Linked DNA regions of Homo sapiens. The protein of the gene in region 2 purifies or fractionates together with the protein of the main gene of each other region. This does not show direct contact. Each region holds a gene or a part of one and is shown on either strand. Other genes may lie near its edges.

Region 1 (2,399 bases), on a different chromosome or scaffold from region 2:
GGTCTACGACGACGGGGCCACAGCGCTGCCGGCAACGCGAGTGGTGGGCTGTGTACAGTTCACCACCGCTGGGGATCCGGCGCCCTGCCGCCCGCTGAGGGCCCATTTCTTGGGCGGCACCATGATCATCGCCATCGGGGGCGTCATCGTCGCCTCGGTCCTCGTCTTCATCGTTCTGCTCATGATCCGCTATAAGGTGTATGGCGACGGGGACAGCCGCCGCGTCAAGGGCTCCAGGTCGCTCCCGCGGGTCAGCCACGTGTGCTCGCAGACCAACGGCGCAGGCACAGGCGCGGCACAGGCCCCGGCCCTGCCGGCCCAGGACCACTACGAGGCGCTGCGCGAGGTGGAGTCCCAGGCTGCCCCCGCCGTCGCCGTCGAGGCCAAGGCCATGGAGGCCGAGACGGCATCCGCGGAGCCGGAGGTGGTCCTTGGACGTTCTCTGGGCGGCTCGGCCACCTCGCTGTGCCTGCTGCCATCCGAGGAAACTTCCGGGGAGGAGTCTCGGGCCGCGGTGGGCCCTCGAAGGAGCCGATCCGGCGCCCTGGAGCCACCAACCTCGGCGCCCCCTACTCTAGCTCTAGTTCCTGGGGGAGCCGCGGCCCGGCCGAGGCCGCAGCAGCGCTATTCGTTCGACGGGGACTACGGGGCACTATTCCAGAGCCACAGTTACCCGCGCCGCGCCCGGCGGACAAAGCGCCACCGGTCCACGCCGCACCTGGACGGGGCTGGAGGGGGCGCGGCCGGGGAGGATGGAGACCTGGGGCTGGGCTCCGCCAGGGCGTGCCTGGCTTTCACCAGCACCGAGTGGATGCTGGAGAGTACCGTGTGAGCGGCGGGCGGGCGCCGGGACGCCTGGGTGCCGCAGACCAAACGCCCAGCCGCACGGACGCTGGGGCGGGACTGGGAGAAAGCGCAGCGCCAAGACATTGGACCAGAGTGGAGACGCGCCCTTGTCCCCGGGAGGGGGCGGGGCAGCCTCGGGCTGCGGCTCGAGGCCACGCCCCCGTGCCCAGGGCGGGGTTCGGGGACCGGCTGCCGGCCTCCCTTCCCCTATGGACTCCTCGACCCCCCTCCTACCCCTCCCCTCGCGCGCTCGCGGACCTCGCTGGAGCCGGTGCCTTACACAGCGAAGCGCGGGGAGGGGCAGGGCCCCCTGACACTGCAGCACTGAGACACGAGCCCCCTCCCCCAGCCCGTCACCCGGGGCCGGGGCGAGGGGCCCATTTCTTGTATCTGGCTGGACTAGATCCTATTCTGTCCCGCGGCGGCCTCCAAAGCCTCCCACCCCACCCCACGCACATTCCTGGTCCGGTCGGGTCTGGCTTGGGGTCCCCCTTTCTCTGTTTCCCTCGTTTGTCTCTATCCCGCCCTCTTGTCGTCTCTCTGTAGTGCCTGTCTTTCCCTATTTGCCTCTCCTTTCTCTCTGTCCTGTCGTCTCTTGTCCCTCGGCCCTCCCTGGTTTTGTCTAGTCTCCCTGTCTCTCCTGATTTCTTCTCTTTACTCATTCTCCCGGGCAGGTCCCACTGGAAGGACCAGACTCTCCCAAATAAATCCCCACACGAACAAAATCCAAAACCAAATCCCCCTCCCTACCGGAGCCGGGACCCTCCGCCGCAGCAGAATTAAACTTTTTTCTGTGTCTGAGGCCCTGCTGACCTGTGTGTGTGTCTGTATGTGTGTCCGCGTGTAGTGTGTGTGTGTGTGTGTGTGTGTGTGTGTGTGTGTGTGTGTTGGGGGAGGGTGACCTAGATTGCAGCATAAGGACTCTAAGTGAGACTGAAGGAAGATGGGAAGATGACTAACTGGGGCCGGAGGAGACTGGCAGACAGGCTTTTATCCTCTGAGAGACTTAGAGGTGGGGAATAATCACAAAAATAAAATGATCATAATAGCTAACGCTTAGTGAATACTTACTTACTATGTGCCAAGCACTTAAGTCATTTAATTCTCACAACACCAGGACATATCGGTATTATTATCCTGTTTTCCAGATGAGGGAATTTTGGCCCAGAAAAGTTAAATAACTGGCCCAAGGTGGTAAAACTGGGATTTAAAAAGGCAGGCAGGCCAACTTCTGAGTCTCTACTATAGGGGTGAAAAGACAGCTTCCCCTTCACTCTCTGAAATTTCACTGGAATGGGCTGACAATAGATTAACAAGAGAAAAGGAATATGGAGGGTATTTAACATGCACTAGGAAAATCACAGGAAAGTGATTACCCAATAACCCAGTGAGGTTTATATACTTATATACCTTTCTTCACAGGAGGGGAGATGGGGAAAGGAAGGCAATTTTGAGGGGTAATAAATGATTTTGGGGAAAATAAATGGGTCCAGGAGATAGAATTTAGCTTGTAAATGTCTCTGGAATTTGAGACTGACAGACAGATAATTTCT
Region 2 (3,084 bases):
TAATATTTTGATTCAATAAACAGATTATGACTGTACACATATCCTTCCAATAATAAAGGATATTCAGAGTTAAAACTCAAGTATATTTCCAGGTTCCTTAAATTGTTATAGGATTTTATTTTGTTTTCTTCTTATTCCAAGAGCAGTGGCATACTGTAATGAGGTATGATTATTGTCGGATATTTTCTAGTCTCATGGTATGCAACTACCACAAATAACTAAAGGCATGAAAACTTGTATTATTTCATATCTTCCTATTATGCATATGCCATCTTTCTGAACTAGTGGTTTTGGCAGGATTTAGGAAACCTTTACAAATGACACTACGATGTAGGCAGCTCAATAATTATTACGTATTTTAGTGGAGTTATGCAAATGTTTGCTCATTTTGTTGATCTTTTGGATTCAGCTACGTTTGGTACTTTTTTTTTTTTTTTGCAGTTGCAAGATTTAATAGAGTGAAAACAGAGCTCCCCTAAAATGGGAGGGGACCCAAAGGGGGTTGCCGTTGCCAGCGGTACATTTTTTATTCTGTATTGCTATTTATAATCACATTATGTTGGCCGGGCACAGTGGCTCACGGCTGTAATCCCAACACTTTGTGAGGCCGAGGCGGGCGGAACACAAGGTCAGGAGATCGAGACCATTGTGGCCAACATGGTTGAAACTCCGTCTCTACTGAAAATACAAAAATTAGCTGGGCGTGGTGGCATGCACCTGTAGTCTCAGCTACTCTAGAGGCTGAGGCAGGAAAATCACTTGAACCCGGGAGGTGGAGGTTGCAGTGAGCCAAGATTGCGCCACTGCACTCCAGCCTGGGCGACAGAGCGAGACTCAGTCTCAAAAATAATAAGAAGGCCAGGTGCAGTGGCTCACACCTGGAATCCTAGCACTTTGGGAGGCCGAGGCGGGCGGATTGCCTGAGTTCAGGAGTTTGAGACCAGCCTGGGCAACACGGTGAAACCCCGTCTCTACTAAAATACAAAAAATTAGCTGGATGTGGTGATGTGCACCTGTAGTCCCAGCTACTCAGGAGGCTGAGGCAGGAGAATTGTTGGAACCCAGGAGGCAGAGGTTGCAGTGAACTGAGATCGTGCCACTGCACTCCACCCTGGGCAACAGAGCAAGACTCCGTCTCCAAAATGATGATAATAATAATAATAATGAAGAGAAGGAGGAGGAGGAGGAAGGAAGAAGAATTGCATTACATTATGTTTCCTTGTGGGGCCGGGTATAGTGGCTCATGCCTGTAATCCTAGCACTTTGGGAGGCCAAGGCAGTCAGATCAGTTGAGGCCAGGGGTTCGAGACCAGCCTGGCCAACATGGTGAAACCCCGTCTCTACTAAAAATACAAAAATTAGCCAGGCATGGTGATATGTGCCTGTAATCCCAGCTAGTTGGGAGACTGAGGCAGGAGAATCGCTTGAACCCAGGACGCAGAGGTTGCAGAGAGCCGGGATCATACCACTGCACCCCAGCCTAGGCGATAGTGATACCCTGTCTCAAAAAAAAAAAATTGCATTATGTTTCTTTGCTTTGTGAATTAAGCTATGGAAATGAAGAAAAATATCCTTTGATGTATTGTATTTTAGGATTTTCATGGCCATGCTTGTCAGTTCTGTTGTTACAGAATGTCACCCTTAGTTACTTTGGGAAATGGTAATTAATTAACGTTGCAGGTGTCAAAGTAATTTCCTCTCTCTTATTTTTCAGCTATACTGACTTCTGTTGAAACCATTCAAAGCTAAAGACATGGACCTTCAGCAGTGTAAGAAGATATTGTACAGTATATTTTAAATCTATGAAATTCATAGTTCTGATGCTTTTGGTCACAGAGCATCATTTTATCACTTCTGGAAAATGTTTATTCCAAAACAGCTTTAATGGCCCATATGTACACTTCGTAATCTCAAGGTTATTATTCTGACACCAGCTTGCTGCTATGATTTCAGAGCACATAAGTAAAGGTGCTTTTTAATGTGCAGTCTATTTCCAGAGCTTACTTAGTTGCTGATTTCCAGATTTCGATGTTTCTTAAGTCTAGGTGAATTTATATATATATTTTTTTGCTTTTCATTTTCTAAAGTTAGTTATTATTTCCATTGAAGCTTGTTTTCTTTTTTTTCTTCCCATTTTAGCTACTGCAGTGCTTTTGTTTCACACTTGATTTGTAAAAATTTTATATATATGTATTTAAAATGTGCCATTTTATTGCTAAGTGAAGTATGTCCTGTTTTCTGCTATAATTCTTTCTCGGTCAGATTGCAATGTCAGCAGTTACTGCCACACTCCTGTCAGCTTAAACACAAATGTTACTGCTTATCTTTTCTTAAAAAAAAAAAAAACAAAGTGTAGGTATTTTGAAGTACTGGGCTTATATTTCATTGGAATACATGTGTACAGCAATAAGCAGGTTTCCAAATCCGGTACTTAGTTTGTGTACAAATGTAATTATGTTCATTGTGTATATATTATACAATGAGCACATGTAATGTATTAAAGGCTACTTACTATTGTTTAAATGCAAATGTTCATATCTCATTTCTTTTTTTATCATGTTAAATAAATGTTGATGTTCTTAAATCAGTGTTAGAATTTTTGTTCTTTCCATCCAAAATTGAAAGTCTTAAGACTCAAGAGACCTCTAGAAGAAAAGGTACTCTGTTAATTTTATAATCCTAGACAACATCTTAAAAGATCCTTGTCGGTCCAACCCTCCCATGTCAAAGTTGAGGACCTTGAGGCTCAAAGAGATCAATTGAGTTGGCCACAATTTAATGACAGAATTTTGACCAGACTATAGTTTTTTCTGACTTTTTCTCTAAGTACATTACATTAGCTCATTACCACTAGAGGAGTTTAGTTTTGTGAAGTCTTTTACCACGTTTCTATTTGCTTCCATGTTTCAGAAAGTAACTTCAAGCATCAGTAGTCCTGCTCTGTTTAGGGATTGGACTTTGAGAGAGGTGTGTAAGGCAGCTGTTTGTCTGACATGGGTAGCTAGAAACCGTTTCATCGTAAGTAGGACCCTCAGAGATCATTTTCTCTTACAATACATTCTTTGCAGATGTTCACGCTCTTCA
Region 3 (3,500 bases), on a different chromosome or scaffold from region 2:
GGGCATGGTGGTGCGTGCCTGTGGTCCCAGCTATTTGGGAGGCCAAGGCAGGAGGATCGCTTCAGGAAAGCAAGGCTTCAGTGAGCCACGATCGTGCCACTGTACTTCAGCCTGATTGACAGAGACTGTCTCAAAAATTAAAAACTAGGCCAGGCACAGTGGCTCATGCCTGTAATCCCAGCACTCTGGGAGGCTGAGGCAGGTGGATTGCTTGAGTCCAGAATGTCAAGACCAGCCCAGGCAACATGGTGAAACCCCGTCTCTACTGAAAATCCAATGAATTAGCCAGGCATGGTGCACATCTGGAGTCCCAGCTACTTGGCGGGGGCTGAGGTGGGAGGATTACTTGAGTCTGGGAGGTTGAGGCTACAAATGAGCCCCAATAGTGCCACTGCACTTCAGCCTAAGCAACAGAGTGAGACCCTGTCTCAAAAAATAAATAAATAAATACTAACAAGTTCCAAGAAATAAAAGAGTTTGAAGTGGTCTCAATCCCACCAATTCCAAACCCAAACTTCAAGTACTACATGGACACTCAGAGACCCAGGCTTGATTGTTGAAGCTAAAATTAACACAATGCTGTTCCCCGCCAATCACACCATCCCCTCCCAAATCAGGTTCACCAGGCTGAACTTCCAGCAGGAGCAGTCTCGTCAGAACAGGAGCAGATACGCGATCCCGGCTCACAGCAGCACCCCAGACCTTCGAAAACAACAACAAAGGGGGTGCAGACAGGCTTCCGGAAACGCCCTCCCTGGAAAATATGCTGGATTCTCCCCCACTGAAAAGGGCAGCTCAACGCACAAACAGGATGGAAATTCAGGGCAATCAGCTCTTTCCAAATCAATTTCTTTTTCATTACATAAGCTAGCCAGCACTTCCGACAATACCAATCCTGCTGAAGGGTACCATCACACAGTGGGCATGCCCCCAAGGTGACATTTAAGAAGTGAAAACTCTTTCCTGAAAAAAGGGTAGGTCTTGTGGCTATTTGTTGCAGGTGTTCATAAATTTTTTAAAAAATGTTTAACTTCTTTCTTTCAAGTATCCTCCATACTACAAGTCACTATTGGCTAAAACTAAAACTTATTGAATTGAAGCTAAATGTACTTTCTAAAGGTACGGTTCTGCCTTTCAGACTATTATCTGAGTGAGAACAGGGTAACAGTAGCTTCGTCCTAAGCTGGAAATCAACATGGTTGTATTTACTAGAGCCTGTTGAATGCTGACATTTCTCCAAGACCAAACATAAATCATTTGTGAACATGGACATTATTTGAAATTCTTCTCCCAGAACCATGAAAAGTGTTTTCCCACCCTTAAAAAAAAAAAAAAAAAAAAAGGCAAATAAAAAGCTTCTAACCATGATGCTAATGACAACCAGACGGCATGAGCAGTTTTAAAGATTAGACAGTTGCTTGTGTAGAAACACTGTACAAATACTCCAACACTGCAGCCCAAAAAAAGACAATCCCCATCAAACAGCGGGAGAAGTGTGAAATTTGCAAATGAGCCCCTGGTTAAACAAAAACACCAATCTGTTCCCAGAGAGCTCAGGGTGGCCACCTGTTTGGGACTGGTGGCAAGTTCTGGTTACCAATGGAAGAAACAATACTGGAGCAAGCAGTGGCAGCCCCCTCTCGGGCCCTGGTCCCCACCCTCGAGCCTATATTTAGTCTGCTCTTTACGGAAAATGTCCCAACCTCGCACACAAACAAGCTATCTGGCTGGTTACTCAAAGAATCCATTAACGATCTCTTCTGCAGGGGGTGGTATTTGTTTTCCTTCCCTCCCCAGGCCCCAGACACAAGCACGATACCCACTTCTGGCCATGGTCTCTTGTGACCAGAAAAGCCCTGGAAGATAGAGGGACTGGACCCCACGGACAATACCAACCCTGCCTCTGATGGGTCATCACTGCATCTTGGGAAAGACAGCCCACACTATGAAAAGGGACCCCCAAATCCCCCTCAGCCCCTCAGAAGCACAGAGCTTCCAGAAGGCCAGGGCTCACCGCAGCACACACAAAGCACTTGTACCCCTGAATAAAAATAACAGATGCTGCAAAGATTAGAGATTAACATCTGTAGAGTGCATTTTGTTTCTCGGAGAAAGGTACTTAACAAAGGGAAGGAATTATGTAGCTAAGCACCAGATCAGAACCTCAAACCCTGGATTTTAAAAATAGCTAAGCCTCATCCGCTTTGCCAGACTCAATCACTTAAGCTAAGGACGTGAAGGCTGGAGGATTGGGATGGGGGCGGGGAGGGGGACACAGGTTTGCTAGAGTGTAGAGAAACATAAGACGAAACGAAATCAGTGGTTAAAACAAGCCAGAGTGAGACTCACAAACTATAAACACCTGCAGGGTATACAGGGGGAAAAACGGATGCAAAATAAGGGATTTTCGTCTTAACAAAATAAAACGCCTGGTTTAGGCAAAAAACAAGAGGTGGTAGCAACAGGGCTGCAGGTTTTGTTTTGAAGGTTCCTGCAGCTGCCCCCACTGCTTCTCTCCCTTATGAGTCACTTCCTTCAGGCTCCTCCAACAGCTCTTTTAAGCTACTAGTAACATCTAGCTCCTGTCTTTTACAGAAACGCGCTTTCAGCTTGGAAATATTGGTAACAAAATGTGTCATCTGCCAAATTATCATATAATAAGTGAATACTGAAGAACCCAATCTAAATATACATAAGACTACATTAAAAAGCAACAATCTCCGAAAGACAAGAAGGAAAATCCGCAAAACCACAGAATGAGTCTAGAAGGAAATGGACATCAGCTGCCTCTACCTCCTAACCAGATTCTCTTGGCAATGTCCATCCGACATGCCACCGTGTCGCAGAAACGCAGCCCACTGACAGATGCCCCTGACAGCAATAACTGAGAATGGCCCCACATGGCAGGTGCACCTGAATGTATGTTCGGGGTTCTGAGCTAAGGAATCCGGGAGTGGCCAACCCAGAGATTCATTCCTTATCTATGAGGAACATCTAAACCCCCAGCCTGTCCCATGGAAAGCAGGCCATACAGGGTATTGAGGCTCTTTGATTGGTGTTAAGGTTGCTGGGTGGTGGTTGTTTGGGGGAGGGTGTTAAGCGAAAATGCTATATAAACTGCACGCTTTCTGAAAGCAAGCAGCAGCGCTTCTCCTGCCCAGGCCGCCATGGGACCACTCTGTAAATAAATTCCCCTAATAAACCCTCTGTCTTTTGTTTGCTGGCTCTAGGTCTCCTCTCCAGTCTCTTGAACCCGGTGCCATCCCTAATGAAATTTAAAGGGGTCTGGCACGACAGGCCCCTCACCCAGCATTCAGCTGCTTTTCAAACAGCATCATGAAGATCACATGAACACCAGCTTGAAACCATTCAGATCTGGTTTAAGTCCCTCGTCCACCACACTTAGCCTGCGTGACCACAAGCAACTCCCTGAGCAGCTGGCCTTAGGTGTCTTCACCTGAAACCTGCAGGGCAGGCTGATAGGAAACCTTCTCAGCTGG
Region 4 (2,534 bases), on a different chromosome or scaffold from region 2:
CCATTCTCTGGGACCCTCAGGCACGTCTGTGGGGGAGCACTGGATGAGGAGTTATGTGCTACCTGTGTGATTGCGAGCTAATTCTTTAACCTCTCTGAATCAGTTTCCTCATCTGTATCATATTCTCATGGAGAGTGTGAGTGTGTGTGGAGATCATGATGGGCTATGCACACCTGCTGCCAGACAAAACAAGACAACTATCATTACGGAGTGTCATGTGCCAAGCACTGTGTTTTGCACTATCCAAGTTAATCTTGTCCTTCCTCTCCCACCACAAACCTACAAGATAGGTCGTCTTATTAGCTCCATTTCCTCAGTGATGAATTCAGAGCTAGGGAAAGTTAAGAGCTGCATTAGGAGCTAGAGGGAGCAAACCCTTGACGTGAACCCAGCTTCCCAGTGCAAAGCCCATGGGCATCCCCACCCACTGTATTGCCTCCTGATGGGCTCCACCTCCATGAGGTTGGACTCACTAAAAACAAACAGCATTCTGGACCTCGTTTTTGATGTAACATTTGTTATTTTATTGGAAAAAGCTGGTATTAACATATTTATAGTTTTATTCAACAATTGGGTAATTTGTGAGACACCAAAGAAAAAAAGAATGCACCTATGAGTTACAGAGTCCAAACTGATCAGGGCTGACAACTTGACCACCATGTATCCCACACCACCACCCCCACCACCACCACCACCAACAGCTTCGTCCTCAGAGAAGAGCTAAATTAAAAACAAAACCAAAAAAACCCCAACAACTTCACAATGACTATGTGAACGCCCGTACATTCGAGAGTACCAGGAAATGTAAGCAGAGCCAGGATGCAAGTCTGTGACTATTACACTGGTCCTTCCACCGTTTCTGGTTTTGTCCCTCCCCTCGACACCTTTTCTTAACACACATTTGATCTTCACAATTTGCTTTGGACATCATTATTTTCCAGGGATCCAGAGACATACTTTTCTTCAAAGAAGATCTTTTCCTTTCTTTTTTCTTCTTTTTGGTTTGGTACCCAAAGTTTAAAACAGAAGTAAGGAACTAGGAACTGTATTAAGACCTCCTTTTGAAGGACATGTAAGATTTGTACTTTGAAGATGGTAAATGTTAAATCTATGATGTGACAGTAACCTCTAGCTGCAAATACAAGTTTCTTCTCTTAACATTTGACTCACAAAGGGAGATGGATCGTAGCAAATATCCAAGTAATGGGTAAGGCCCTCAGAGCTGGGTTTTGGCTTTAACACGCTATCTATACAATTGACCACATTCTCGAACCTCTTTACAAGGGGGAAAAAAGTAATCCAATCCTTTGATTGTTAAATTTAATTAGAATAGATATGTACATATAATACTGTCCAGGTCAACTGGATTTTATAGTGATATATAAACAAACATTCTTCATTCACGTTGATTAAAAAAAAATCAATGATCCATTTCCCTGTGTAAATGTTATATGGCCAGAAGTGAGTACACATGCACTTTGTGCTTTTACACACACAAAAGTATACTGTAATCCACTGAGAATAACCTCAGCTGGGTCTGTTTCCTGGGTTATGTTATATCTTGTAAAAAACAAAACAAAACAAAACCAAAAAAAAAGTTTGGATTTGGCTGGGTCTCTGCTCCCCACTTTCTGAATCAAAATGCCAAACTACGTGGCTCTGCTGCAAGTCCATGAGCAAAGACGACTCAGAGGGGTGGGCAGGTTTGGTATCACCAGAACAGGAGCATCTACCATGGAAACACCACCTTCTCTGTGGCCCTCATTGTCAGAGGGGCAGAGTTCCCGAGGGATGTGTCCTCTGGGACTGTGTGGTCCTTAAAGTAAAGGTATCCTAAAATGGTCAGAACATGCAATTTCCTTTCAAAGGCAGTTCAGTGCATTGGCTCAAGGAGGGTGCAAGCCCAGGATGAAGTGGAGTCCTGGGGAGGGCCACACTCCTGAAGCCACCAAGCAGAGCGAGGAGCTCCGGGGGGTCTTCTCTGTCTTCCATCCTGCGTCTCAGTTCTCCTGGACCCTTGTCGTCGCCAAGTCTGCCATGTCCTACTTCACAAGACAGAGGCATTCCTTTCCAAACCTTCCATTTGAATGTCGCTCTAACATGAGCCGCCCACGAGATGGACTGGAGAGAACCTTGTGTGAAGACCCGGACGGGTTCCTGACACCACTGCACGGCACCTGCCATGGGTGACCTGTGCATCCGCTCAGAGCCTCAGCTTCTTCTCGTGGACAGAGGGGATCCTAAGGGTTCCCGCTTATCCCCAGCATCCAGCCCAGAGCCTGGCACGCTTCGAGAAGTTGGTGTTTATGGAGGAAATGAATGAACACCCACCTCACAGTCAGGAGGAAGATTCCAAAAAATCGTGCATGGGAGTCAGTGTCCGCTCCGGGAAGGTGCCCAGTGAATGCTGAAGGGTGAGGCGGCAGGGAGGGCTGCAGAGGGTAAGTCAACTGCCTCTAGGGCTGAGCACCACGCCTGGTACACAGCAGAGGCTCAGCAAATGGCAGGTGAATCAGATGAGGACACAGGCACAC
Region 5 (4,293 bases), on a different chromosome or scaffold from region 2:
TGCCCACCTCTGCAGCAGGGGAAAGAAGTCCTCTCACCCCAGTTTGAGGGGAGAGGGGAGGTCCAGTGTGGGGACCAACACGAAGGTCACAGCAGACAGTGGAGTCATGCCTGAGAGCCAAGGAGAGTCCCTACCAGGTCACCTGTCTCCCAGTAGCACCACTTACCTGGGGTCGAAGGGCCCCAGAAAGTTTCCATGGTTCCTGGCTTCAGTAAGGGGCTGAAGTCCAAACAAGGAAAGATGACTCAGAACCGGGGGGCCTCCTGGGCTCTTAAGTCCAAATCATGAAGAGTTCAGCCTCTGAAGTCCATGGGCTGGGGAGGCGAGCACGGCCTGCTGCTGTTCCCTGATCCTCCTCCTCCCAGTCTCAGTCTGGAAAAGCCCCGCACCACCTTTGCTGAGAACAAGGCCACACCATGACAGGATGGCCTGCCAGGAGCCCCAAAACCCTATGTTGGGGTGAGGGGAAGGAGAAGCAACAAGACTGGCCTCAGACATGATGCAGGTGAGAAATGGTCTGGTTTTATTGAGAAGCTGTTGGTCATTTGATGGAAAGACACATACGGTACAAAATTACAGGTGGTTTAGTTCATTACATGATACAAATCATTAGAGTCTTTACAAGTCATTAGAGTCTTTGGATTTTTTAAACTCCCATTTACTGTGTACCAAATCAATATAATCACAGAATCAAAGTCACTTCTTTATATGTGAACTCTTCGCATTTACACGAATCCACACATAGAGAAGCTGTTCCAAGACCCCCCAACACCATTAGTGTCTGCAGCCCACCAGGAAGGCACCACGGACTTTGTGGAGAGAAAGATGCTTTGGGGGTTCAATGGGTCAGTATCTTGGGCAGGAAGCACAGGGTGACTCCCGTCTTGTGTGCGTGCGCACAGCCACCAACACACACTCTCAGGACTTCCCGTTTCACATACAGGGAACTTTTAAGGCAAGAGGAGAAAATGCTAGGAAGTAACGGGGGATCAGAACTCCTCCACCTCTCAGGCTCCAGCAGTCACATTCCCAGCTCCGTTCTCTTGTTGAACCTTGGTAGGCCCAGAAACATCTTCCCCCTCCTCACCTCTGCCCTCCCGCTCCCTCTGGTCAGGCCTGGGTACCCAGGAACCCAGTCACACACCTGCCCCCTGTCCCCTCTGCTGCTGGACGCAGTGCCCGGGGCAGAAGTGAGCCTTCTCACCCTGGAGCCTCAGTCCTTCATAAGGGCCCGAGGGAAGTGGCGGGGTGGGGCCAGGGATGTTCTGGGCACACAATGGGGAGGCAGGGCCCCCAGAAGCATCCCCCACCCCCATCTCTGACAGCGCCGCGTGTGCAGTTACTGCCCTTCCCGGCCTTGGGTGCCATCTGCGGGCCGACCCACACTAAGGTGCCACTCCTGGGGCCTTCCAGGAGCGCATCGGGAGTCCTAAGGCGGGTGGGCGGGCAGGCGTTCTTGGGAGGTGAGTCTGCTGGTCAGGGAGGCAAGAAAAGAAGATAGAAGACGGAGGCCAGCCCGCCCTGGCCCACCACTCTGGAGACCGCACCTCCTGCCTGCCAAGTGCTGGCCCGGGGTCAGCGGGGCTCACTGCCTTGGTGACCACGTCACTGCACATCCCTCTTTCCCAGCCACAAGCTGACATTAGTCCGCACCGAGAAGCAAGAGTGAACAGGGCCTGGGCCCAAATCCACCTGCTCAAGTCAGGAACTCTGGCTCGTTCTACTCCACTGTAAGTCAAACCGATGGTAAAAAGCACGACACACACGTCCCCCAGGACTTTCCCAAGATGGTGCTACAGGAGGCCGCTGCTGGGTGGATGGCTCAGCCACCACGAAGTGCCAGGTCCCACCCACGCTGCCCGTCCGCCACCATTCCCAGAGCGTCCCCACTACACGGCCCAGGCGTTTCCCCTCAGGGCAGCAGCAGTGCTGGCCTCTCACCCAGGCCATAGTGACACCAGCGGACCCAAAAACAAACTTCTCAGTGAAACAGGTTTTAAAAAGAAAGCCGCTGTGCTGGGAAGCGGGTTGAGTTAAAGGGCAAGGCAGAGGTGACAGCTCTTCATCCAGGGACAGGTGCCACAGGGTTCCCTCAAAATCGGCTAAGGACAGGGAGAGCCCTGGAGGAGTGCCTCCCCCCAGGGGCCGGGCCCTCTGCCAGCCCGGCCGCAGCCTTCGTGTCCCTCGCCAACTGGGGAGAGAAAGACAACCTGTCCTCGCAGCCAGGGCTGGGACAGGCCCACCATGGAGACTACTCTGTTGGCGCCTTCAAGTCCCTAGAGAACCAGAGCCTTCCGCAGCGCTTTCTAGATGTTGACTAAATGTGAGAACTAGAAACCAGCTCCAAGGGTGGCTGTGTGAATCTTGACCCAGGACTCCTGTCCCTAGATTGGTGGCCTTCCACACATAGACGCTAACCCCCATCCCACAAACCTGGCACCAAAGGCTCTGGGAGCATAAGTGCCCCAGCCAGGAGGTGGAGGCCACCCCGGAAGCTTCCGGCTGTCCCGCCCACACCATGCACGGTGGGCCTGGGGGCGTGGCTGCTGTGAGGGTCTGGAGACTAACCAGCACACTCCCTGCACCAGCCCAGCCGCCAGGCCCCAGCCCCACACTCTGAGAGTCTGGGAGTTGCCGAGAAGTTAAAATGACCCAAAGACCTTCCTAGAAACCAAAAGTGCACCAAATAAAGTAGCAATGCCTCTTCCTTTGTCACCGACTACAGAAGCACATCATTCTCCCAGGTTTTTGCTCTCATCCAAGTTAAGAGTAAGGCCACTGTGGATCCGCAATAGAGGGATGTGAGGAGGGGGCTTTATCCTCTGCCGTCCCCAGGACCCTCCACCTGGGCAGGAGGCCAGCAGCTCTGCAATGGCCAGAGAGGCTGCAACGTGCAAGGCAGGCCCTGGGCCCCCCCACACAGGCAGACGACGATTGCGGCTCGCAAATGATTTCGGATTTTGAAAAAATAAATATAAATAAATACATTCCAAGCCTTCTGTGAAGGGAATAAACGGCAAACATAAGAGACTTTCCAGGTGTCTAAAGATGCCAAAACATCCACAGAGAAACCGCTAAGAAACCCTGGCAGAGGAGGGATGGGGGGGCTCAGGCCCTCGGCCCCCGTCTGGGGCACCAGGACCATCTGCCAGAGCCCAGGGCCCTCCAGAGGCACTTGTGGAACCTGGGACCAGGGTGGGAGGCTGGGGGGTCCCCCAGAGGCACTTTGCGGGAAACTGGGACCAGGGTGGGAGGCTGGGGGGCTTGCGGAGTGAGCCAGGACATCCTGGGTGGGTGGGGGGGCTTGCCCTCCAGTGGGGAGGAAAGGCACTGGTTACAATTATGGTTTAGGTTAAGACATTAGTGGGGCCACCAGAATGGAAATGATAGAAAGAGCAACATAAGGCCCCAGGCACAGGCACACAGCAAGATCACCAGGCGCTGCACCACCCAGGGTCTCAGTCCTAGCATCCCCCAGCCCCTGCGGGCACCCAGAACCTTCCATCCACCTGAGGAGGCACAGTTGAGGCCCCCACTTTACCCGGGTACAGAAGAAACAAAGCTTCCAGAGGCCCAGGGAGGTCACCAGCCCTGTGTCGTGCAAAAAGCATTCATCGCCCTGCCCCTGGGGAAGGGGCCACCGGGCTCCTGGCTCCTCAGGGCTGTCACTGGCAGGGCTCAAAAGGGGCCGGGCACCCCCAGAAAAGTTCGCCCTAAGGCAGCGGCTCAGCTGGCCCAGGATTTCCGGTTCTCAGGGTTCTTGTGGCTCCTGTCGGCCTTGGCCAGGGCAGCTGTCAGCGAGGCCAGGTTGGTGGCGGAGCCCGAGAGGGTGGCGCTCCGGCGGGCCTCGGGGGCACCCAGCCGGAGTCCTGTGCTGCGCCGCCGCACAGGGCCCGTGGCCCTGCGGACCCGGCTGGGCCTGACCAGCAGCCCGTAGCCAGGGTTACACCTGAAGTACTGCTTCCCGCCGATGGAACCGTCATTCTTACCTGCGGGGGAAGGAGAGGGTGATATGGAGGGCAGCCGAGCTGCAGACGGCCCCCTGCACCTCCCTTACCTCTGCAGAGGCCATGTGCCCACACTGCCACCCCCCCGCACAGGCCCTACACAGCCAGCACTCGGACACTGGCCATTGTCTGGCAGGGACTGGCTAAATGAATGTGGCCAGGGCCTGGGGTGACCGCCTCCCAGGACAGTGAGCAGTGGTGACCAAGGATGCACAGCCCCAGTCCTGCAGCCTCAGGTAGGAGGTGACAGGCCCTGGGGGCCCTGGGGAGTGCCTTGTGGAAGCAT
Region 6 (3,231 bases), on a different chromosome or scaffold from region 2:
ACGCCAAGGCCCAGGTTTTCGATGGCAGGTTTTTGGCAGAGCTGCCAGCCTCGTAAAACAAGGTAATGGTCTTTAGGAAGTAATCACTTTAGCTATTGTTTCCCAGCAGTTGCCAGAGAGTCTAGAAAGGACCCAGTGACTTCACGACAGTACAGTACAGCAAAAGGGAGAACAGCAGCTGCAGCAGCAGCCTGTGGATGGCAGGGAAGGTGACTGCTAATTTTACAGGCACTTGGAGATATTCTGGCACCTTCATAGGACACCAGGGAACCTGCAGTCACTTTTGCTGGCTGACTTTTCAATCTCCTAGCATTGAAAAGCTCGACAGGAAAGAACTTAAATCCATTGTACAGTTTTGCAATTTTCTCTAAGGCCAATATTACACATGGAATGCCTAATGGGAAATTGCTACAAAAGTGGCAGCTAATTACAGGTTAGTGGATAAAACAACACCCTTCTCTGGAGAGCCTGTGCACGTAGGTTGAAGGATAAAATAGGGCTGAATGGTATTTGGTTTATTTGTATTTATCCAAGTCAGTGGCCCAGGCAGGAACGTAATATATGACAAGGGACATTTTTGAAATAGCTGTTTTTGAATTATGCTCATGAAATACACACTGTGCTATGGAGGACATGTGGGAAAGCTACACTCTGACCGCATGACTAATTTTTAAAGCCTTGCATAGAGAGAATTCCCCCTAAGAACACAGCTGGGCTATTCCTTCGTGAACTGAATGTGTCAATTGTGAATTGAACTAAGGTGAAATTTTACTCCAATATGGCAAATGAACTGAGGAGCGTACCCTTCAGCTAAGGTATTATGTAGTAGTTCATACACCAAGTACTATTATTTTATTAACTTTAAGAACATGTTTTACATAAAAACAGGCAACATCAAAAAAGCTCAGTTGATAAATGAACATAATATATCACAGATGATTTCATTCCACATTAACCTACATGTATCAGCTTAAACTGAAGGATTAGGGGGAAAAATTGGATCTCATTCCACCTTTAATTAAGGACACAAATTGTTTGAAAGTTATTTCATTAGGATTCTGAAAATCAAAGATTAACCTATGCCATCTGATCCATGCAGCAAGTGATAAATTCAGTATTTTCAAAAGAAATATTGAATTTTTTTCTTGAGTCAAATTGAAACCTTTCAGAAACTTGTTTAAATGCGCCAAGTCCCTACGCACCTTTTTAGTATGTATGAGCAAAATACTGTTGAATTTCACACTCAACTAATCCTTTAATAATTTTCTTTCAGCCAGAATGAAAAAGGCTAGTATTAATTTCCTAATAAAATTTTTTTTCAAAAGTTATCGAGGATATGACTATAACCTTGGACCAGTTTCAATTTCTTTTTATTTTTTCTGAGAATACACCAAAGATTAATGTCAATGGCAAGTGAGAAATTGTCCCTAGAGAACTATTCAAGGACTTTTTCTTACTACATTTGATTGGACTGGAGTGAACTGACATTATAGCATCTTTATCATCACCTTTAAAATTCTATTTTCTCTTAGTAGCAACAGTGAAGACTTTAGAACTATTACTTACTTTAAATTATTAAAGTATATCACAGACAAAATATTCAATTTTACATTAAAGCAACATTAAGGGTCTCAATTTCATTGAACAGAAACAAATGCTGAAGAAATTTACAGGTATGATTTAATTTTAGAGAGTGTTCTTTCTTTAGGGAACAAAATGAAACTAGATCTCTCATTTGTCTGTATGGGCAAGATATGGTAAACCTCATGATCAAAACACATGCCAGTTAGAAACTTGATCACAGAAATGATGCTCAGTGTTGAAACCCAACAATAAACAAACAAACAAAAACCCCCACTCTAACCAGAGGCATTTAAGCCTCTCCACTGAAGTTCCTGTTTCCCACCAGTTTACGACCCTTAATGTTACTGCATGTATGGTTGCATATTTGAGATGATTAAAAATAAAAGACTGGCTTAAAAGCACCTCCTCCTCTAGTGTGTAATTACATACAAACTAAAGATTCCTTCTGACGTCCTAGGAACCCCATTTGTTACCGTTTCATGTGTAAGCACCATTGAACCAATTTTTAAAGCACATTTGCAGTTATCAAATGTTTAGTGTGTCCTCAAGTTTCATTGATTTGTTTGCCTTTAAGCAAGAAAAGAGTAAAGTGTATTATTTTCCCCTGCTTCTTTTCATATCTGAATTGTCAAAAAATGTTAATTTTGGAAGTGCTTTTAATCACTATTTTCCCCAACAGACTAGAATGGCTCCATGAAATTTGACAATTAAGTAAGGAAATCTTTATCCCCAAAAGAAGCACGTATCTTACCCTCTAAACTGCATGCAAAGTAAGGGTCTGTGTGAGAGTATTTTCCCCAAACTCCTAATGGACATGGCAGACAATGTGTAGAAAAATCTGAGTTTTGAACTGACCAACTTCAAGTCTTTTAAAATCTTTGGGCAAAAAAAAATATCATGTAGCAGTTAAAAAAATTATTGACTTACAAATTATAGAAAAGATATGTTATCTACAATATATGCCAGGTGACCCATTAAATTTAAAAAATGTGTGCGAATGAGTAACTACATTAAAACTACCATCTTGGATCTTGGTGCTTTCCAAAATTCTGAAATCACTATTAAGGAGGGACCATACCAGATTTTTTTGTTGTTCTTTTCCTTGGAGAATGGGGAAGAAGTTGGAAAGAGAAGGAAGTAAACCTTCACTCTTTGGTACAGCCCTGTATAGCAAACTTCAGCCTGGGGCACATTTTTATGGTCAAATTAAAAACCTTTGAGAATAGGAGTTTATCATAGAAATGCTGACAGATCCTAACCCAGAGAAGGGCTAAGAGCAACACAGTAATATTAAGAAAGCTCTCCCTCAGCACGATTGAGCTTCAGCGCAAGGGATAGAGTTGTCTAGTGGACGCCCTTGGCCAGTAAACAACCATGATTTAATGTGCTTGAGACTTGGTCATATGGGAGCTCTGTGACCCTCTAAGCCAAATTTTCTTTTCTTTTTGTTTTCAACTGAAATATGCCTCAAAGGGTAAAGGATTGCAATTTTAGCCTTCATTCATGGATATATTGCTTTCTTTCAACAATATCTGATGGGCCTGTTAACTGCCACCCATGGGGAGCAGGTTGCAGGAAGGTCTCATTGAACACAAAACACCAAGTGTTTTCAGTAGTTTATTCACATTTTTTTTTCTCTGCTTATTT
Region 7 (3,500 bases), on a different chromosome or scaffold from region 2:
AACGTCTACCTCTGAATCCTTGTCTTGGGGTCTACTTTTGGGGGAATCCAAACTAAGACACAAACAGAACTCGAAGCACAGGTAACGGCTAACCACTTCACACTAAAACCTCCCTTCCAAGGGCTTGTCCTGGCCCTTTAGTGTGAAGACTAAACCAAGGGGAGTTTTCTACATCCCTGGACCTGAAGCAAATGGTATTCCACAGACCGTATGCATCCCGTTGCCAAAAAAGCAACATTTGTGTCCCTTTTGTTTAGAAAGGTTTCCTTCTTTATGCATTATTCAAAGTATCATGATCCCTATTTCTGCTCTAAGTCACTGCTTCAAATTTCTTGGATCACAGACCTCTATCTTCTTTGGATGAAAACATCTATGGACTAGGGGACAATAATAAAGTCATTCAAAGTTAAGTTGTAAGAGAAATACTCACTGTCCCTGAAAATTATTGGGGATTTAAAACTTAACTTTCCTATAACCTCCATTTAGAGCCATCACACCTGCCTGAAAAGTGCCTCAAGATGTCCAAATTCCTGATACACAAGTGCAGAATAACTTTATAGAGTATTTATTTTCCATTCCATTCAGTAGAACAGTAACTAGGTACTTAATAACAGCTAAAATTTGGGTGTTTATTCTGTCACATACACAAAAATAAAGAAGTTATTTTTATGTATTAACTCAATATTTACATCAACCATAGGAGGTAGGTACTATTATTATCCCCATTTTACAGATGAGAAAACTGAGGCACAGACGGTCAAGTAACATGCTCAACGTCATAGAGATAAGTAGCAGAGCAGGATTCACATCAGCTGGCTTGGATCCAGAGGCTAAGCTCTTAACCCCTACACGACACTGCCTCTAGTTTCCTCTTCCAATTCTCGTATCATCTTCTGAACTAGACAGTGTCATCAATCCTTTTTACAAACAAATGAGAAAACTGAGGCATTGAGAGGTCAAGTCATTTGCCTAAGGTCACCCAGACAATTATAGACTTATGGCTAGCATCTGTCTAGTGTGTGCTAGAACCCTTCTAGACATGGAAGATATCAATTTAACAAGTATGGCCCTGCCTCATGGAGCTTAAGGTCTTGTGCAGGAAGAGAACAGGTCAATTCATCAGCCTAGTCCAGTATGCTGAGCAGCAGACAGGATGTTTGCAGAGGTAGAGACGCAGTATAGATGACAGGCATCAGAGCCAGGTGAGATGGAGGCCAGGAAGGGCGTTCTACGAAGAAAGTTTTATAGGGAATGCTGGGAAGAGATAGGAAGGATGAAGGACATTTCGAGGGACGAGTATTTATTTTCCATTCCTTTCAGTAGAACAGTAACTAGGTACTCAATAACAGCTATAATTTGGGTGCTTATTCTGCCACACACACAAAAGAAAACACTTTTAATGTATTAACTCAATATTGACATCAACCCTAGGAGTTAGGTACTATTATTATCTCCATTCTACAGATGAGAAAACCGAGGCACAGAGGGTTAAGTAACATGCTCAATGTCAGACAGATAATAAGTAGCAGGGCAAGATTCACATCAGCTGGCTGGGCTGCAGTACATGCAACACTACAGAGACAAGACAGAGCAGGAGGAATCCAAGGGAACCACAGGTGGCTTTGCCTGGTGAAAGGTAAAGGTACACATAGGGGAGGAAATGCCCATGAGGCTGGAGGAAGATGGAGGCATGAGCGCCCTGGGGGCTAAAATATGTCATCTGAGGATCTTGCACAGGAAAGCAACATTGTCCATTCTCCCCAGTACCCCAGGATCTAGAGACTCTAGATGTCTAGATAGGAGACAGGGGTAGCTAGGAGATGCAGATCCCTCACCTTCACATTAAGGCCCTTGTTTTTTTTACATTTTAATTCAATTATTAAGTTTTGAAAACAATGTACCCTTTCCTAGTCTGGCTGCAGACAGACAATTAACATATTGAATTTTTGTGTTTTAATGACAGTCAGTATATTTGAGTTTAACAATTACCTAAAAATATAAAATGCTCCATCCATCAAGAATGTAAGTAAAAAGGGGGAAAATCACAACTGCTGACGATCACGAGATAATCCAGCAAGACTGTTTGTGGCTGGTGGCTGTGTACACCGAATCCTCAAAAACTTTTGATTTCTCTGCTCTTCTGCTGTCAGATAAGGCGAGCTTTGTTGCCGGGTGTACTTTCTCCTCAGTGTATTTTTCAGATCTAGACCGATAAGTTTGCTGGCACATCACTCCAAATTTCCATGCAGGTTTTCATTATGAGTAATCAGGGCCTCCGACTTACAGAAGCAGTGCATCTTACACATAAACACGCACTGCTGCCACCACCGTCTACGCCCCTCCTTTCCACGGCTCATCTCCACCTGACTCATCACGGCAGAACTTCTGCCACTTCAGTCATGGTGGAAAAACCTTGGAGCTCTTAAAAGACCAGTGGGTGAAATTTGGAGAAAAGGTCTATTTACGAGCAACAGAAAAAACTAAGAGGAAAACCCCCCAGGAAAACCAGTTTCTAAAATAGGGCCGGCTTGCTTACCACTTTGATCCTCGCACACAAATAGCTTCCCAAAGCCTTCCTGGATTGTTTCTACTTCATGTCTTCTGAAATTTCAAAATGAGAGAATCTTTATGGTTAACAATTCACAGAAGACCTTACAGTTCCATGGAAAAGCCTTTCGAATCAGTCTATTTGTCTCAAATCCTGGCTCCGCCACCTATTAGGCATGGAACCTTCTAAAGATGACTCAACCTTTCTGACTAGTTTCCTTACCTGTTAAACATGGCTAACACTACCCACCACATAGGATTTTTATGAAGGACAGAAGAGGCAACATGTTTGAAAGCCCCAGTACGTTCAGCACTTCCCATGTGGCACATGCACATCTTCCTTCCTTCTCCACTTCCCCTCACAGATGCTTGCGTGGGCCTGCTACCCACCACACATCACAAGAGGTGCTGGTGATGGGGAGATGAGTAACTGGCCTGCTTCTTGTTCTCCTGTAGCTCACATTTCCATGTTAGGACAGACAATAATTAACAAAGGATGTGAAGAATGCTACGGGAATACTGATTCCAGGAAGCAATTAATTTGGCCAGGGTGTAGGAGGGTGGAAGAGTGAATAGTGGGAACTATTCACTATTAACTATGAGTGAATAGTCCTAAGGAAGGCTTGGGACTCATCACTCCTTTGACAATTATAATACAAGCTGAATATCTCTAGTCCAAAAACCCAAAACTACTTTCTGAGCAACGACATGATGCACAAAGGAAAGGCTCATTAGAGCATTTTGGACTTTTGGATTAGGGACGCTGAACCACTGGGTATAATGAGAATATTTCAAAATCCCAAACAATCTGAAATCTGAAACACTTCTGGTCCCAAGCATTTCAGATAAGGGATAGTCAACCTCTAATACTAAAGGTTCCATTCTTTACATTTCTACTATAGACGCTTTTCAGAAATGCTCATCTGGCCTTGCTGGGGCTTAAAACCTTCCAA

The links.
Region 1: the proteins of PLEKHA5 (region 2) and LRFN1 purify together in Homo sapiens (affinity purification with mass spectrometry, with the first as the bait; one large-scale study listed by BioGRID). This does not show direct contact.
Region 3: the proteins of PLEKHA5 (region 2) and AGAP1 purify together in Homo sapiens (affinity purification with mass spectrometry, with the first as the bait; one large-scale study listed by BioGRID). This does not show direct contact.
Region 4: the proteins of PLEKHA5 (region 2) and PPP2R2C purify together in Homo sapiens (co-immunoprecipitation; one large-scale study listed by IntAct). This does not show direct contact.
Region 5: the proteins of PLEKHA5 (region 2) and KIF13B purify together in Homo sapiens (affinity purification with mass spectrometry, with the first as the bait; one large-scale study listed by BioGRID). This does not show direct contact.
Region 6: the proteins of PLEKHA5 (region 2) and DCLK1 purify together in Homo sapiens (affinity purification with mass spectrometry, with the first as the bait; one large-scale study listed by BioGRID). This does not show direct contact.
Region 7: the proteins of PLEKHA5 (region 2) and ZBTB21 purify together in Homo sapiens (affinity purification with mass spectrometry, with the first as the bait; one large-scale study listed by BioGRID). This does not show direct contact.

Annotation. Positions count from the first base shown.
Region 1 is NC_000019.10:39,306,066-39,308,464, reverse strand, and holds the end of LRFN1 (leucine-rich repeat and fibronectin type III domain-containing protein 1 precursor), read left to right. Parts: coding exon 1-832; 3' UTR 833-1,899; downstream 1,900-2,399. UniProt on the Homo sapiens protein: Promotes neurite outgrowth in hippocampal neurons. Involved in the regulation and maintenance of excitatory synapses. Induces the clustering of excitatory postsynaptic proteins, including DLG4, DLGAP1, GRIA1 and GRIN1.
Region 2 is NC_000012.12:19,373,817-19,376,900, forward strand, and holds the end of PLEKHA5 (pleckstrin homology domain-containing family A member 5), read left to right. Parts: intron 1-1,714; coding exon of another isoform or gene 1,715-1,749; 3' UTR 1,750-2,584; downstream 2,585-3,084.
Region 3 is NC_000002.12:235,500,543-235,504,042, reverse strand, and holds part of AGAP1 (arf-GAP with GTPase, ANK repeat and PH domain-containing protein 1), read right to left. Parts: intron 1-3,500. UniProt on the Homo sapiens protein: GTPase-activating protein for ARF1 and, to a lesser extent, ARF5. Directly and specifically regulates the adapter protein 3 (AP-3)-dependent trafficking of proteins in the endosomal-lysosomal system.
Region 4 is NC_000004.12:6,320,081-6,322,614, forward strand, and holds the end of PPP2R2C (protein phosphatase 2, regulatory subunit B, gamma), read right to left. Parts: 3' UTR 501-2,534; downstream 1-500. UniProt on the Homo sapiens protein: The B regulatory subunit might modulate substrate selectivity and catalytic activity, and might also direct the localization of the catalytic enzyme to a particular subcellular compartment.
Region 5 is NC_000008.11:29,066,778-29,071,070, forward strand, and holds the end of KIF13B (kinesin-like protein KIF13B), read right to left. Parts: intron 3,990-4,293; coding exon 3,727-3,989; 3' UTR 501-3,726; downstream 1-500. UniProt on the Homo sapiens protein: Involved in reorganization of the cortical cytoskeleton. Regulates axon formation by promoting the formation of extra axons. May be functionally important for the intracellular trafficking of MAGUKs and associated protein complexes.
Region 6 is NC_000013.11:35,768,152-35,771,382, forward strand, and holds the end of DCLK1 (serine/threonine-protein kinase DCLK1), read right to left. Parts: 3' UTR 501-3,231; downstream 1-500.
Region 7 is NC_000021.9:42,000,361-42,003,860, forward strand, and holds part of ZBTB21 (zinc finger and BTB domain-containing protein 21), read right to left. Parts: intron 2,602-3,500; 5' UTR 2,537-2,601; exon of another isoform or gene 1,990-2,536; intron 1-1,989. UniProt on the Homo sapiens protein: Acts as a transcription repressor.